Linked DNA regions of Homo sapiens: region 1 is linked to region 2. Evidence: fine-mapped expression QTL. Tissue or cell type: whole blood. Region 2 holds a variant in brackets; the other region holds the start of a gene. All regions are shown on one strand. Distances are between the middles of the regions.

What was found. PIP is the estimated chance that this variant, and not a neighbour inherited with it, causes the effect.
Region 1: it holds the start of VCPIP1, and the variant in region 2 is fine-mapped to the expression of VCPIP1 in whole blood (TOPMed, PIP above 0.99).

Annotation. Positions count from the first base shown.
Region 1 is chr8:66,662,402-66,670,514 of GRCh38, forward strand. VCPIP1 (valosin containing protein interacting protein 1) reads right to left here and starts at 4,830. Exons shown (of 3, transcript NM_025054.5): 1 at 1,848-4,830. The coding sequence starts at 4,557. C8orf44-SGK3 (C8orf44-SGK3 readthrough) reads left to right here and starts at 5,195. Exons shown (of 19, transcript NM_001204173.2): 1 at 5,195-5,300. It overlaps C8orf44 (chromosome 8 putative open reading frame 44), which reads left to right and starts at 5,195. Exons shown (of 2, transcript NR_161217.1): 1 at 5,195-5,300. RefSeq lists enhancers at 3,718-3,777, 4,028-4,547, 4,918-5,427.
Region 2 is chr8:67,640,894-67,648,893 of GRCh38, forward strand. All of the region lies in intron 1 of CPA6 (carboxypeptidase A6), which reads right to left. Among named protein-coding and RNA genes, the nearest start is that of CPA6, 100 kb to the right of the region's middle. The variant G/A (reference allele first, on the strand shown) is at 4,672.

The DNA.
Region 1 (8,113 bases), 980 kb before region 2:
AATTCTGCTTTTCACTTTTTTCAATGTTCAGTGCTGACTGACCATCCATTCCATTTCTGCAGATACAGCCTTTCTTTAGCTGTGTTAATGTCATCTATTTAATTCAATTAAAAAACATTTCAGAGTGCATACTACCTGCTGAGCACTATTATCAGGTTCTGTGCATACAAGGATAAAGGTAAGAGCCACATTCTCAAGAGTCCATCTTCTATTGAGGAAGATCTTCTCTTTCCTGTTTTTGACCTGGGAGATTGAAGGTCTTTTATTTATTTACTTATTCATTTATTTATTTATTTTTTGAGACAGAGTCTCGCTCTGTCGCCAGGCTGGAGTGCCGTGGCGCGATCTAGGCTCACCGCAACCTCCAACTCCGGGGTTGAAGCGATTCTCCTGCCTCAGCCTCCAGAGTATCTGGGATTACAGTCACAGGCCACCTAGGATTTGTATTTAAGTACACTAGCATTCGTATTTAAGTGACCTTGATCACAAGGTCAGGAGATCAGGACCATCCTGGTCAACAAGTTGAAACCCCGTCTCTACTAAAAATACAAAAATTAGCTGGGCATGGAGGCGTGGGCCTGTAGTCCCAGCTACTTGGGAGGCTGAGGCAGGAGAATTGCTTGAACCCGGGAGGTGGAGTTTGCAGTGAGCCGAGATGGCGCCACTGCACTCCAGCCTGGAGACAGAGCAAGACTCCATCTCAAAAAAAAAAGAAAAAAAAAAAAGAAATATATAAAGTGCGTAGGACAGTTCCTGACATACTCCCCAATTCAATTACTATGTCTGGCAAACTAAAATCAACAATTCCGGGTTCTAAATTTGTGCAGGGTTTTTAGATCCCCTATTTACTACTCCCCCAGATAAGCCAGGAGTAGTATTCATTTTGATAGATTAAGGCCCAAATCACTGCCATATAGTACTATCAGAAAACAGAATCAAAACCCAGATGACTTTTCTCGTTGAAAGCTTTAATCTCAGCAAAAATAAAACCCTTCCAGTAACTAACACATTTAAATTTTACTTCATACTTTAAGACTTAGTAAAGCATACTAAGTTATTTCAAAACAAAGACTAAGCAAATATAGACACTGTAAAAAGTACACCATTGAACAGTATCCCAAATCATCTAAAGCTTTAAATTACACATTTGGTTAATATATTTTTCTTTAATTTATGCTGATTAAAAACAAATACTTCTTTACACCATTACCATCCATCTCTGTTTATGTTTCTCATGAACTACAACTTATAACAGTTCATTATAATTGATGGCAAAGACTTGAGTAGTGAAATTACTTAAATACAAATCCTAGTGTACTTACATACAAATCCTAGTGTATGAGAAAGAAAAATGTGATGAACTGGGAAAGGAAGAAAATGAAATGTAAGAGACTACTAGGTGGGAGTGCAGTGAGAATATAAACACCAGAAACTGCAATTCATCAAACAGGAAGTGCTGAAATCACATGACATACAGGAAAATAAAAATTAAAAATAAATGAAAAAGGGGCAAGGTAGGCAGGATCAATAGAGCCTACCAAAAAATTTAAAACGCTTTAAATAAATACAAGTCTGTTTTTTAAAAAGCAATTGCAAGAATAAGATATATTTAAATAATCTGTTGACTATTATTGAGGGACTACCTTAACTTTCTATTTTCCTAATAGTTACTCAATAATCCTATTAACATCTATCAACTGTTCAAAATACTAAAAATAATTCTCTCCTGAAATATATAATTAAAAACTTACAATGGCTACAGATTTCTTTTCCCCCAAAGATAACAGGAAAACTCAGTGTATTATATTTACAATTAAGATATACCATCAGAATTAAATTCATCTTACCCATTAATGTTGCTAAAAGACACAAGGAGTACATTTCTTTTTCAGCTTGCTCCTGAAGTTCCTTAGATGACAGTTTACCAGTAACAGCAATATCTTCTTGTTTCACAGTGTGGGCTGAGTGTGCTGCAGCAGACTGACCACCTTCAGCTTTACTTTTTAGAATTTCTATTGTAATTCTGTCGCCATGCTGTAAAGGAACTGGTTCCTTTTCCATTCCTGCCTGTGGTGGCATTAACTCTTTAGGAGGAAACCCGTATCGAATACACTGTAAATATGGAGGAATGTTGAATTCTCTGGCTATACTTTCCTGAAGTTCAAAAAAGGTTGTTGAAGACTTAAGGGTAACCATGGACTGTCGTCCATCATTAGTTGTGATTCGGATCTTCTTCTCCTTAGAAGTTGTCGGTGAATAGGGAGCCTTGGTAGGTGTAGCAGGTGCAGAGGATGGACCATCACGAATGGTACTGGGAGAAACAGTCCTGGGTTGCCCTTTTTGTTCTTGTTTTAACTTCTCTGTTTTCCGTTTCTGCATTACAGAAGCCTGTTCCGTAATATTCTGTTGAATAGTTCTTTCAGTTTTACTCATGTTTAACTCCTCCTTGTGCAAAGTTTTTGTTTTCTGTCCAGTAAGAATAATTTTAGTTGGGAGCTGAGACTCTGATTCTTGTCCTTGAACATCTCCAACTCTTTGGGCGTGAGCACCATCTATATTTACAGGAGTATAATCATCGGGATTCTTTTTGGCAGTCTGATGCAATATAGTGTGGACAACTTTCTGAACTAGGATTTCACTCCCAAATTCACCTGGAAAGTGCTTGGTAACAAGTTTCATTGCAACATCGTAAACATTACTATTCAAAGATGAATCACTTTCATACTGGAACCAATATACTGTTTCTCTGACCACTCTTCCACCCCATTCTAAAGTAATAGGGAAAGCTTCTGGTAGATTGTCATACTCCTTACCATCCCAAAAGTGTTTGAATCCACAACCACATTTGCCACCAGTGGACCTAGAATTAGTTCTGTCTCCATCCAAATACACAATAGACCCATCTCCTCTGACCTTTCGCACAGATGTGCCATGGCACCAATTACAAGCTGTTAGGTTACTCATTCCATAGTCTGGTACCAGAACATCTTTCACTGAATCATATGAGCAAACCAAATTGTTCAAGGGAAAGCTGTAATTTTTGTCAGTCCTCAGCTGTCCATGAGTACTTTTTGCCAGGTTATACAATTTCCCTCCAGGAGCCAACCACTCTGGAGGAACATGAAGTTCAGAAAGGGCACCACAGAGCAAACATTTGTGAAGGCGATTATCCATTACTGCTTTTTTAGCAGCTGCTGTGACTTCCTCAGGCTGAACTCCTATCACTCCAGTCCTTCTGTAGAAATACTGATGGACATCAGCAACCAAACTAGGATGGATACCATGTTTGTCCATAAAGACTTCTTCCATAGCAGCAACAAGCCTAAGTAAGTATTTATCTTGCAAACTTCTGTCACCTCCAATAACACAACCACCATCCTCTTCAAGTTTTATGTACTTTTTAATAAGGTCCTGAGGCACACCCCATGCTTTAGGAAGCAAATTCATAGGCAGTTTGGGCAAAGCAGCCCCTTTTATGCCTACCAAGGGGATATAATGGTTTCTACCGGAGCTGCTCCATGCAATACAGATTGGTTTGTTCAAATGACCATCTTTCCCAGTGCACTTCTCTGCAGGGATGAGCCCAGGTAGAAAGGTGGCTGAATAATCACCAGAGCTTCTCATGCCACTGAGGGAATCTAACAGAATAATAGGACGATGTAGCACATTGGCAAGACCAAATATGTGGATATTCCTCAGGCCCAAGGGAACACCCTCAGGTGGTACAAACAGAGGGTCACACTCATTGATAATGTCCTCCCACTCAGCAGCATCAATGAAGTCATGGAACAGAGCTTGATATCGGGCCAGGTGCTGCTGAAAGTGCTGTTTAAGATTCTCTCTTAAGGCATGCCAGAAGAGCTCTCGGCCTACTAGAGCCCGAGACACAGCATGCACCAAGCAGTGTCCATCCCCGTCCACATGCACTGGAATGAGACATTCCTGGCTTTTATTGGCCCGCTTAATGTCCTCCAGAGTGTCATGCAAATACAGGAGGCTTCCGGAGCGGTCCTTGCCATAGCCCACAGTGTTAACATGCTCTGGTTCTATGAGGAAGGCGCGGTCACCCAGTAAGGCGCAATCGAACAGTTCGCCCTGGTTCATGTCCCGGAGAAGCTTGGCCCGGCCTGTCTGTTTGTCCATTCCATAGCGAGCTAATATGGGCGACAACAATTTGCAGTGATAGTTGGAAAGGCCCATCACCTTTACCAGTTCCGTGTTCTTCTTGGGTGCCCCCGTAACCCCGAGCAGCGCGTTCCGCAGCAGGTTGTGTAGCACTACGTCCGGGTCGGTCACCTCCTCAACCCCCAGCAGCTGTTGCTGCTCGTGCCGCTGGCCGCACTCGGTACACTCGATGCTGACAGAACCGGAGGCCGGGAAAAATAGACGCGCCTGACACTTCGGATCCGGGCAGCTCCCGGAAAGGATTCTCCGGTCTCTCCGCTTCAAAAGCCCCCCCGAAGCAGCCGCCGACGCCAAGGACGACGGAGTCTGTGGAGCCTCAGGGGGAGGAGGTGGCGGCGGCAACGGAGGCGGCGGCGGCGGCGGCTGAGACATAGCTCCTGGCTCTCGTGTCTCGCTCCGCGTCCCAGGCGACCCTCAAAAGCTCATAGCCCAGACCCCCACCAACCCGACTCGGTCCAGTCCAGGCCCAGGGCGAAGCACTTTCCTTTCCCTACCAGCTCTTCCTCCTCCTAAGCGAAGGCGGAAGCGCCGGACGTTGTTTCTCTTCTTACTTCTCCACTGCCGTAGCCGTTGCCCCGAACGTAACGGCCACCACCCCACCCCGCACTCACACTCACTCACTCTCGCTCTCTCTCCCTCAGACACAGACATACACGCCCTCATTGAGTGTGCGCAGGCGCAGCTTCCGCTCTGCCCTCTGGGAATTAGAGTCTTCCAGCCTCTGTGCTGGCCATCAAGCCCTAGGATCTTGAGTCCAGAAGGAACTACAAGTACCGTGAGGCCAAGCGGTTCAGCGCTAGAGGAGAGGAGGAAGAGGACGGCAACAGGAAAAGGGGCGAAAGAAAGATGGTGACTCGCGTTGCCTGCCGGTAGTTGTAGTTTTACTGGGCTCTCCTTCGTCGTCTTCCCCACTCTGCAGCCCAAGGCAAAGAGTCTGAGAGACCACATTTCCTAGGATGCCGTGCGGTGCGTCTAGCTGCACTTCCTCCTTAGGCGGAGGGGAGGATTCAGGGAAGCTTGGTTAAAAACAGTTATGGCAGTGGGAGTCGAAGCGAGGGTCTGAAGTTCACGACTACTAGAAGGGGAGGGGAGTGGAAAGGCTCTCAGTGAAAAAGGTACAGTAAATAAATGTCCAGGGATATTGGGGGCTGGGAAGTTGAATAAATGGTCTAATCTAGGCTGGAGGCCATAAGGGGGAAAACAGTTGATTCTCGGAAGCTCTGCCTTCTCCCCCTCTCTAGTGCGAATCACTGAGGCGCCATTTGATTTCTCGTTTCCTGCATGTTTTGGCAGTTTACAGTGCAAATAACGGTACCTTGGATGTCTGTAGAGTTTTGTGTGCATATACAAATTCTCTTAACTAGGTTTAATTTCATTTGCTCTTTACCACCCTACTCCCCAGAGAATAATAAGAGCCATCATGTGTTAAGTTCTTAATATGTGTCTGGACAGCATTTGCATAACACGATATCATTTGATCTTAAAAAATAACCTTCTTAGGAAACAGGCCCAGAAAGGAAATGACTTGCTAAAGTTCACGCAGCTGATAAGTGAGTGGATAGACATTCAGATCTCAACCTGTCTTCTTTTTACAGATCAGGACATAGGCAGGAAAGGTTAGGCCTGTATTACATAGAATAGTAACTAGCATTTGCTTACTATTGCCTTATAGTTTACATATTTAATAATATGTTCACATGTATCATCTCATCCTCACACCAGTCCTGTAATACCTTTACCAGGTGGTGTTGACTTCATTTACAATCAGGGAAACTGAGACTAAAAGGAATTAAGTGACTTGCCCAAGGTCAAGTCACCAGTTATGCTGGATCCCAATCTCAAACCTTGAGAGTGATTTTTACGCTGCTGCTTACCAAAAAATCCCGGCCGGGCGCGGTGGCTCACGCCTGTAGTCCCAGCACTTTGGGACGCTGAGGCGGATGCATCACGAAGTCAGGAGATCGAGACCATCCTGGCTAACATGGTGAAACCCCGTCTCTACTAAAAATACAAAAAAATTAGCCGGGCGTAGTGGCGGGCGCCTGTAGTCCCAGCTACTTGGGAGGCCGAGGCAGGAGAATGGCGTGAACCCGGGAGGCGGAGCTTGCAGTGAGCCGAGATCACGCCACTGCACTCCAGCCTGGGCGACAGAGCAAGACTCCGTCTCAAAAAAAAAAAAAAAACCCAAAATGTTAGGCTCAAATCTTTTGCTAGGCCTTAGAGTCTCCTCTTAGTGATGAAGGGATGTTTAATGTTAAGGAGGCAACAGCTTTATTCTTTTTTCACTTGGGTAGGAAACTGCCTCTTCATACAGAACAATATTCATATGTTAATTGAAAGCTAGTATTATTTTTGTACATTCATCCTCTTTCACTTATTACGGAAATTCTTGCTTTCTGGAAGTTTAGTATCACCTTAGGTAAGTGGACTACCTCAAAATTTCTGAAACATTTGGCACCAACTAGAAACATTAGTGAAGTCCATGAGATCATTTGAGTCTTCTGTAGCTGCCCAGGAAACCGCCTGATTAGGTTGTGTGTGTGTGTGTGTGTGTGTGTGTGTGTGTGTGTGTATGTATGTATGTAGAACTTGATGCTTTGAAATGAACCATCTGCAAAATAGAGGCCCATAAAGGGTATTAGTTTTGATGTGCACCTAATTGCTACAATTTTCTTGAAAATAAATATTTGAAAGAGAAATCCTCCATAATGGACCTTAATTACAAGAGAAGTGATTTTTCCTATCTTGGGATATTTTTCTTTCTTTTTTTTTTTTTTTTTTTGAGACAGAGTTTCACTCTTGTTGCCCAGGCTGGAGTGCAATGGCGTCATCTTGGCTCACCCCAACCTCCGCCTCCCAGGTTCAAACCATTCTCTTGCCTCAGCCTGCCGAGTAGCTGGGATTACAGGCATGAGCCACCACGCCCAGCTAATTTTGTATTTTTAGTAGAGACGGGGTTTCTCCATGTTGGTCAGGCAGGTCTTGAACTCCTGACCTCAGGTGATCCGCCCGCCTCGGCCTCCCAAAGTGCTGGGATTACAGGCGCAAGCTACCGTGCCCGGCCGGAGGGGGTATTTTTCAATAAAGTTTTTCTCAGAGAATTCATGCAAGAAAAGTTGTTTATTCTAACAAGTTTGGTGGTAACTACACAGATTGGTTTTGGCACTGATTTTTTATTAACAGTTGAATGCTTTATAAGTAGAGAAATTGGGTATCTCCTTTAAGTGGAGATTATTTTATGCTGTGACGAAAATGTTACACCTGCAGTGAAAGTTTTTCTCATACAGAATCCAAATAATTGAATTAAAGCTTTGTAGCACATGAGATGACAACAGTCTGCAATTCTAACACTGTCAGGTACTTTTATATCTTAACAACACCAGGCCAAATTTTTCTTATTGATGATACATATACATAGTGAAGTAGATTTTTAAAATTGTATTTGAATATGTCATTCTGAACCATACTATGACAAAATAATCACTTCCCACCCCACTGAAGAAATGAGAAGCCTTTTTCTGGCTTGTCTAGATCATTTAATAAGTTTGTAGATGCACTCAAAGTTCAGAAAGAAAGCTAACATAAAGGGGCAATGAAATTAACCATGTCAAGTTTAATATGTGAATTAATTCTTTATTACTAGCACTTAGAAGGCATGGATACCTACAAAGAAAAAAAATTGTTAGGTCAAAAATAGGACATACTGTTTCTTATAAGACCGGAGGAGTGTAGAAAGCCTCTCCTGCTTATGCAAGATCTGCAGGCTTCCTTCCTCTTTTCCTCCCAAATTCCATGATCTTGCCTAATGAAGATTAACTTAACTACCTAATTAACTTTCACAGGATTTTTGTGGGGTAGATAATAGTTCTTGTTTTTAGTAGTCCAGATGAAAAGAATAAGCTGGGCCTCTGACATTAGCTGTGCTGAT
Region 2 (8,000 bases):
CCTTCAGCAGGGTGCTCATGGACTCCTGGGATGCGGCAGGGAGTGAGGTTGAGGCAGCGACAGAGGCTCTGGGCCTGGGAGCACGTCCTGCCCAGCCATGCAAGGGTGCGGGTCATGCAGTTGGCTGCCTCAGGGACATGGGGTACAGGGGACCCACCGCTGCCACTGCTGCTTGTGCAGCTGCTCCTGCTGCCACCACTCATGTCTTTCTGCTGCAGCCGGCATGATGGCAGCGGATGCTCCAGATAGCCTGCCGCTGCCATCACTACTACTAAATTCTGCCATTACAGAGTGAACCTACCAAGATAAAATTAAACAGACAGCTTTGGCTGGGTTTCAGTAAAACATTGTTTGAAAAACAGGTTGGATTGGATTTGGTTGGGCTGGCCTTGGCCTGTGGGCCATAGCTAACAAACACCCTGAGGTGGAGTATAAATATATCATGTAATATTCTTAGGAAATGAAGGAGGGGATCCAAAATATTACTAATAATCAAGGAACTATAAAATGACCAGACTAAATTTCTAGAATTAAATTAAGTAACAAATAAAACTAGAAACTTGATGGACAGGTTAAATAGCAGATTAGATGTACCCAGACAAGGATTAGTGAACCAGAAAGTATAGCTTTAAAAATTATTGAAAGTGCAGTATGGAGTGTAACAAAGGTATAAGCTAAAAAAGAGCAAAGTGTCATGTAAGCTGGAGAGAGTCTATTCTGTTTCTAATCTGCAAACATCATGTTCAGCAGCAAAGTACTCAACACTTTTCTTCAAAGTCAAGAATAAGAAAAGGATGCTATGACCATCGTTTGTATTCAATAGAATTAGTGTAAATAAGAACAAAACATAAAAACTAGTGGAACTGGAAAGAAGGAACAAAACTGCCAGTTTTCATAGATGATACAATTAACCACATAGCAAACTTAAAAAAAAAAGTAACAGTTATAAAACTAGTGAGAGAATTAGCATGGTAAAGTAATATATAATTAAAATTTACATCATTTGAATTTCTATACATTAGCAACATACAGAGATTACATACAAATATACAGTTCTCTAAAATGTAAGGTACCTAGCAATTCATATAACAAAAGATACACAAGTTATTTAGGGAGGAAATTATAAAATTTGATTAAAGGACATTAGGTCGGGCATGGTGGCTCACACCTGTAATCCCAGCACTTTGGGAGGCCGAGGCGGGCAGATCACCTGAGGTCAGGAGCTTGAGACCAGTCCAACATGGTGAAACACCAACTGTACTAAAAATACAAGAATTAGCTGGGTATGGTGGCGGGCGCCTGTAATCCCAGCTATTTGGGAGGCTGAGGCAGGAGAATCACTTGAACCTGGGAGGCAGAGGTTGCAGTGAGCTGAGATCATGCCATTGCACTCCAACCTGGGCGACAGAGCATGACTCCATCTCAAAAAAAAAAAAAAATATTGATTAAAAGACATTAAAGGGGATGTAAACAGAGACACACCATATTCACATATTAGAAAACAATACTGTAAGGATGTCAGTTACCCTCAAATTTATCTATAGATTCTATGCAATTCCAAACAAAATTTCAACTTTTTTTGGTGGAATTGGACAAACTGAATCGAAACCATAATAGAAGAACAAAGAATAAGAAACAGGCAACGCACTTGTGAAGAAGAAGGTGAGCAATTCTTGTCCTACCAAATATAAAGACTTAGTATGAAGTTATAGTAATTAGGACTGTGGAACTGGCATGAGGGTAGTCCAATATATCAGAAGCAGATCCTTATGTATAGAGAAACATGATCCATGACAGGGGTAGTATGGCAGATCAGCAGGGAAAGGATGAACTCTTTCATAAATAGAACTGGAACAACTACTTATCCATGTGGGAAAATAATTAACTTGGGCCTTTATCTCACACACACACACACACACACACACACACACTCCAAGTCAAAATGGATTAAGAATTCAACTGAAAGGCAAAACCTTAAAAGATTAAGAAGAAAACATAAATTATCTTTATGACCCTGGGATAGGGTAGTATTTATAAAACAAGATGGAAAAATCATAAAGATTAATTCAATTATATTAAAATGAGGAACTTTTCATGAAAATATTCCATAAAGTCAAAAGGCAAGCCCTAGAGAGGAGATATTTAAAACATATAAGCAGAAGATTAGTATCAATATGAAAAAGATGCATTACCTAAAAAATGTACAAAATATATCAACATGAAATTAACACGAAGCAAATGAACAAAAATATGAATAGATGCATATCATCCTTAATAAGCAGGAAGATGCAAATTAAAACCACAGGAGACATCATTTCACAACTACCAGTTTCTCAATGGAATTTCCACAGCACCAAGAGGTAGGAGAGTCATACAGGAATCGCAGCTTTATGTCATAATCACAAAACTAAACTAGAAACAACCCAAACTTTTCTCAACAGTAGAAAACTAAACTGTACCTCTCCAAAAAATGGAATACTATATAGCAGTGAAAATAGATGAACCACAGATATCATATATCAACAAGGATGAATCTTGCAACCATCCTACTGATGATTAAAACAAGTCACAGAAGAATACATAATGTATAATTACATTTTTATAGATTTCAGAAGTGACTATAAGATTTTAGGGATACAAGTATATATGGTAGTTTTTTTTTTAAATCAACTGAGCAATAAAAACAAGGCTACCGGTAACCTCAGAAGGAAGGGGAGAGGGAAAGAGAGATGTGATTAAGAAGGAAGTACACATGGGAGGATTCAAATACCTTGGCAGTGTTTCACATTTTTAGCTGAGTGGTGGACATATAGGTGTTTGTTGTATAATTATTTGTTAAAACTTGCATATATATTCATATGTACTTATTTACATATGAAATTTCATCAAAGAGAAAGAATGACCTAGTACCGGTAGAAAATGTAGATTCTCAGGCCCCATCCCATAAATTTGAATTCAGTAGGTCTGATAAGCATCCCAGGTGATTCTGAGGTAGCGATGTCTATAGATCACATAGAAAAAAATAGACACTGGCTTGTTATAACAACGTGGGTTTACTACACTGAAAGAATTAACACTTATCCTGAGAAAGAAAATAAGACTTGGTTGAGCAATGGAGAAAAAGAGACATCTTCCACTCTTCATATCACAATGCAGATTGAGGGGGGTTGGCAGTACCTTAAAGACCGCATGGTTGCCATTCTAAACTCATTTCATTATTGCTGTCTTATTTTTTTTTTTTTTGAGACAGAGTCTCGCTCTGTCGCCCAGGCTGGAGTGCAGTGGCGCCATTTCGGCTCACTGCAAGCTCCGCCTCCCGGGTTCACGCCATTCTCCTGCCTCAGCCTCCCGAGCAGCTGGGACTACAGGCGCCCGCCACCACGCCTGGCTAATGTTTTGTATTTTTAGTAGAGACGGCGTTTCACCATGTTAGCCAGGATGGTCTCGATCTCCTGACCTCGTGATCCGCCCGCCTCGGCCTCCCAAAGTGCTGGGATTACAGGCGTGAGCCACCATGCCCGGCCATTATGGCTGTCTTGGCTTGCAGGGATGCCCTGGGTAAAATAGCAGGGTGTGTGTGAGCTTGCATAACCCCAAAAGCACAGTAACTCTAACATGTGAAGTCCTGGGTTCTGTGTGAATAGAGGCAAATTCCAGACTTTTTGCACAGGCAGAGCTCTTACAAGCATGTTCTTGCTGTTAGATATACATTCAGTTCTGTGCACCGGAACTTGAAGAGGGATTGCAGACTGTGGGGACTTTTAGGATTTGGGAGTAGTATTTTCCCAGATTGATGAGCAGTGAAGAAGGGGACAGACTCTTGTTGGCTTGCACATGTCAGGAGCAATACCACATGGCCCTAACAGCAGCAAGGGCCAAAGGGAACCAGGCTTCTTGGCCCAGCTGTCATTAAGCTGTGGTACTCACACCCCTTGGGGTATGTGGAGACTTTCCGAGGGGAATAAGGAAACTGATCTTTTCAAGGCAGTGAATTTCCAGTTCTTTAGCATTCATACATACTCTTGCCTAAAACACACGTGTCTCAGAATGCACCTATAGGTGAGGTTTTGTTACTCTACTTCTACGATCCTACCCTCATCCTTCACAATCACACCCCTAATACTTTTCAGAATAAAGGCAAAACTTTCCTCTATCCTATATATTACTGTAGTGCCTTGCTCTGAGGGTGAAAAATTCTCAGGGGTATCAAAAAAAGCAATAATTAAATGAGGCACCGCAAGCCTGAGGTAGGACTTCATGTCTTTCTCTGCCATCATATCACATTGTATCATATATCACATCAGATCGTAAGGTTAAGTATGGTATTAAAAATAGGACGGGAAAGTCTATATTCAAATATATCATGTTGAGAGGAATGGGACTTGATAATTTATATCTAACAACCTCACTTTTTCTGTCACCTATTAACAACAAAATGCATTGCTCCTGAAGGTGAGTGCCTTAAGAGTGAATGAGAGAATCGGTAAAAAAATGTTGAAGATCACGGCATGAATTTCATTTAGGCAACAAATGCAGGACAGAGCTTTGTATCTTATCTACTGGCATATCCTAGAATTCAATTTAAGAAGGAAAAGGGTTGTGAAGGGGCTGTGTATTAAACAGAAAAGTATAAATTGAAAGATGAAGGCTGATTTTCCTGACAGAAAGTAA[G/A]TGATTGGGCTGACTAGTATAATAATGAAGTTTGTCTTTGCCAATTAAACGATATAACACATGGTTTCCTAAATAAGCTATATTTGCAGCTTCAAGGTTTAGAGAAAAATTATTTTTTAAAGCACGTAATACCTTTTTGTCAAATATTATTGTGTTGGAACAAATATAATGATGTCAATATTTTAATTTTCCCAGGTCTTCTGATCTTATCAAGTTAAACAAAAGTAGATAAGGGATACATTATTTTCCAGATTTCTTCTTGAGGGACATGAGTAGAGAAGTTGGGAAACCACTTTCTTAGCTGTCTGTACTGGTTTCTAGTTCTTTCTTTGAGAAGATGGTAATTCCTCTTGTTACCCAGTGTGATGCCTACCTGACCTAGGTGCATTTCTACCCTGCCTTAACTCTGCTTATCTTTAGGAAAGAAAATGCCTGAGATAAAAAGTTCTCTCTCCTGACCAAAATGGCTAAGACTGGTGGGATCCAAGATGACAGCCCACTTGATCTCTGAAGAACCTCTAACTTCATTATAGTCTGATCTCTCTGCTATGTAACACTGCAACCAGCACCATGACAGGTGACAAACACCATGAGAATGACTGGAAGCAACCATAAAAAGACAAAAAGGCAGGCAGCACTCCAGTTTCTAGGAGTTCTCTACCAACTCTCAGAAAAGACATGAAGATTCCTCCCCTTTCTTTTAATGCTCAACCCCTTCATTAAAGATGCCCTGTATTTCCAGCTTCCTGGCTTTCATGGGCTGAGAATTTGATTTTTGAACCAAGCTTCTGCTTCTCAATCCTATGGCCATCAAATAAAGCCTGCACTGCTAGACATTCACTTTTGGTTTTGCCTATTGGCTTCATGGGATCGAACAGGGAAATACCCCATTTTTGGTGGGGGAACGACTTTGTTGGTAACACTCCAACCGAGCAAACCTCTCTGGAGGTGCTGTGGAGTTGTCAAGGAGAAGATCTTGGGAGAGAAAAAAGACATCACTGTTAACAGGTGAGATAATGAATAACAATTATAACATCATTTTAGGTAGTGATGAGGGTCATGAATAAGATAAGAGGTAATTTGATCATAAGTGGAGTGGGGCAGATGTGCTAATTCAAATTGGGTGGCCATGGAAGGATCCCATGAATCAATTTTTGAAATAAAACATGGATGGTAAGGAGCCTGCAGGGGAAGATTTGAGGGAAGAGGGCTCCAGGCAAAGGAAACACAAGCGCAAAGGCCCTGAGATGGAATAGGCTTGCCCTGTTTGAGGACAGGAAGACAGTCCATGTTTCTGCAGCTGAGACTGGAAAGAGGCAGTGTTAGGGAGGGAGGCAGGCCCTATAGGAAGTTTGGCTTTTATTCTTAGCACAATGAAAGCTCTTAGAGAGTTTAAATCAGAATGATATCTAATTTATAGTTTTAAGCTCACTCTGGCTGCTATGTGGAAAATGGATTACAGGGAAAGGGAAGAGAAAGGGGAGAGTAGGGATGATCAGTTAGGAGACAATTGACACAGCCTAGGAGGAAAATGGCTTATCTAAAGAAGTAAAAGAGAAGGCAAGATCTAGGATCTATCAGAGGGAGAACCAACAGGGTCCACTGCTGAATTTACATGACCACAGGAGAGGGAGGAAAAGAGGAGTTACAGAGGATGTATGTTTCAATGAGTTTGAGAACATTGGAGCCAGGTTTGACAGCAAATATCAAGCTCCTTTTCCTTTTTGGGTATGTTAAGTTTGAGATGCTATTAGACAATGATAGGATAATCTTTTTTTTTTTTTTAAATTATTGAGAGACAGGGCCTCACTATGTTGCCCAGGCTGGCCTTGAACTTCTGGATTCAAGCAATTCTCTTGCCTGAGCCTCCCAAGTAGCAGGGATTACAGGTGCATAACACCATGCCTGGATTTGACAGGATAATCTTGGATATGTTAATTTGAGGTGTTGCAGCTCAGAAACCAATGCCACAAAATACGATGCTTTGATATGCTGAACTGAAGAAGCAGCCTCAAGGTCTCTTAGACCTTCCCTGACTCCTGTCTCTCAATTGTCTCCCAAAGAATGTAATGAAATTGTTCTCTGAAGTTCCCTTATCTGCCTAAAGTCTGGACGCAATAAAGAAGAAAACAATTACCTGTGGTTCTTTCTCTGAGTTTTCAATAACGGATCTTACATTACAGGAAGAAAGGCTGAAGTCTGTCAATGTACCTGGAGAGACTTTTGTCACAAACCACTGTCTGCTCTATAGGCCCAACAGAGTATGTTCCAGGCCATTATATGTTCTTCAAGCCCACTGAATCCCCCTAAAAATCATTTACTACCCCCCTAAAATCATCTACATCTATCTCCATTTTCCCTAAGAAGTAGGGTATAGAAGCATCTGTATCCCACTGGGATATTGGGTATCACTCTATGATCTTCCCCTGTGAATGCTAATGAATTTGTATGCTTTTTGTCCTATTAATCTGCCTTTGTCAGTTGATTTTTTTTCAGAGAACTTTCAGAGGACAAAGGGGAAGTTCCTTTGGCCCCTATAGGGGGCTTAGGAGGAAGTTAGGGCTGGAGATATAAATTGAGGAGTCATCAACATATAATTCATCATTTCAGTTTTATACTCTGCCTATGTACCGCAGAGACTGTTTAGAGAATAGATGAAAGATCAGAAATAGTATTCAAATTTCCTAGATTAGGTTTTTTTTTTTTTTTTTTTTGCTAGACCTTCTCTTTTCTTAGTTATTCCTTCATTCCGTGTATAAAATTAGTATTTACATTTTCAGTCAAAATCCTTTGAGGAATGAGAGAGAAGGGGTAAAGAACGGCATTGCTAAGCCTTTAGGCCCAACACAGAAGGCTGTGCTGCATCATACTGCCAGCTCCAGACTTACTCAGCTCCAAATTCAAGTCTTGAGCAAATGGAGCATAAGTCACGTCTGGAACCCTCATTGCAAAGCAGCTTGGGTTTTGGTAGCCTCTGCTGGCAAGAAAGGCCCAGAAGGAAGAGGTTGGAATAGTTTCTGAGTAAGCCAATACAGGGTCTGCCACATCGGTGAGAAAAATGGGAGTACTAATTTCTGTGAGGTTTTAACTCTACCAGAGATTTTAAGAATTTTTATTTGAAACTTTTCATGCAGAATTTTGTTTTTCTTTTGGTGTGTTAAAGGGATAAAGCAGCTACAGAAAGCTGTGGAAAAGTTCCATTGGAAGCTGTGAGCCAGATTTGTAAACTAGCCTTTTATTTGTTAACCAAAAATAAGAGTTGGTTGAAATGACTGTTAGAATAGAACTGGGGAATATCATCAATGAAACTGGGAAAACAAACCAGGCTC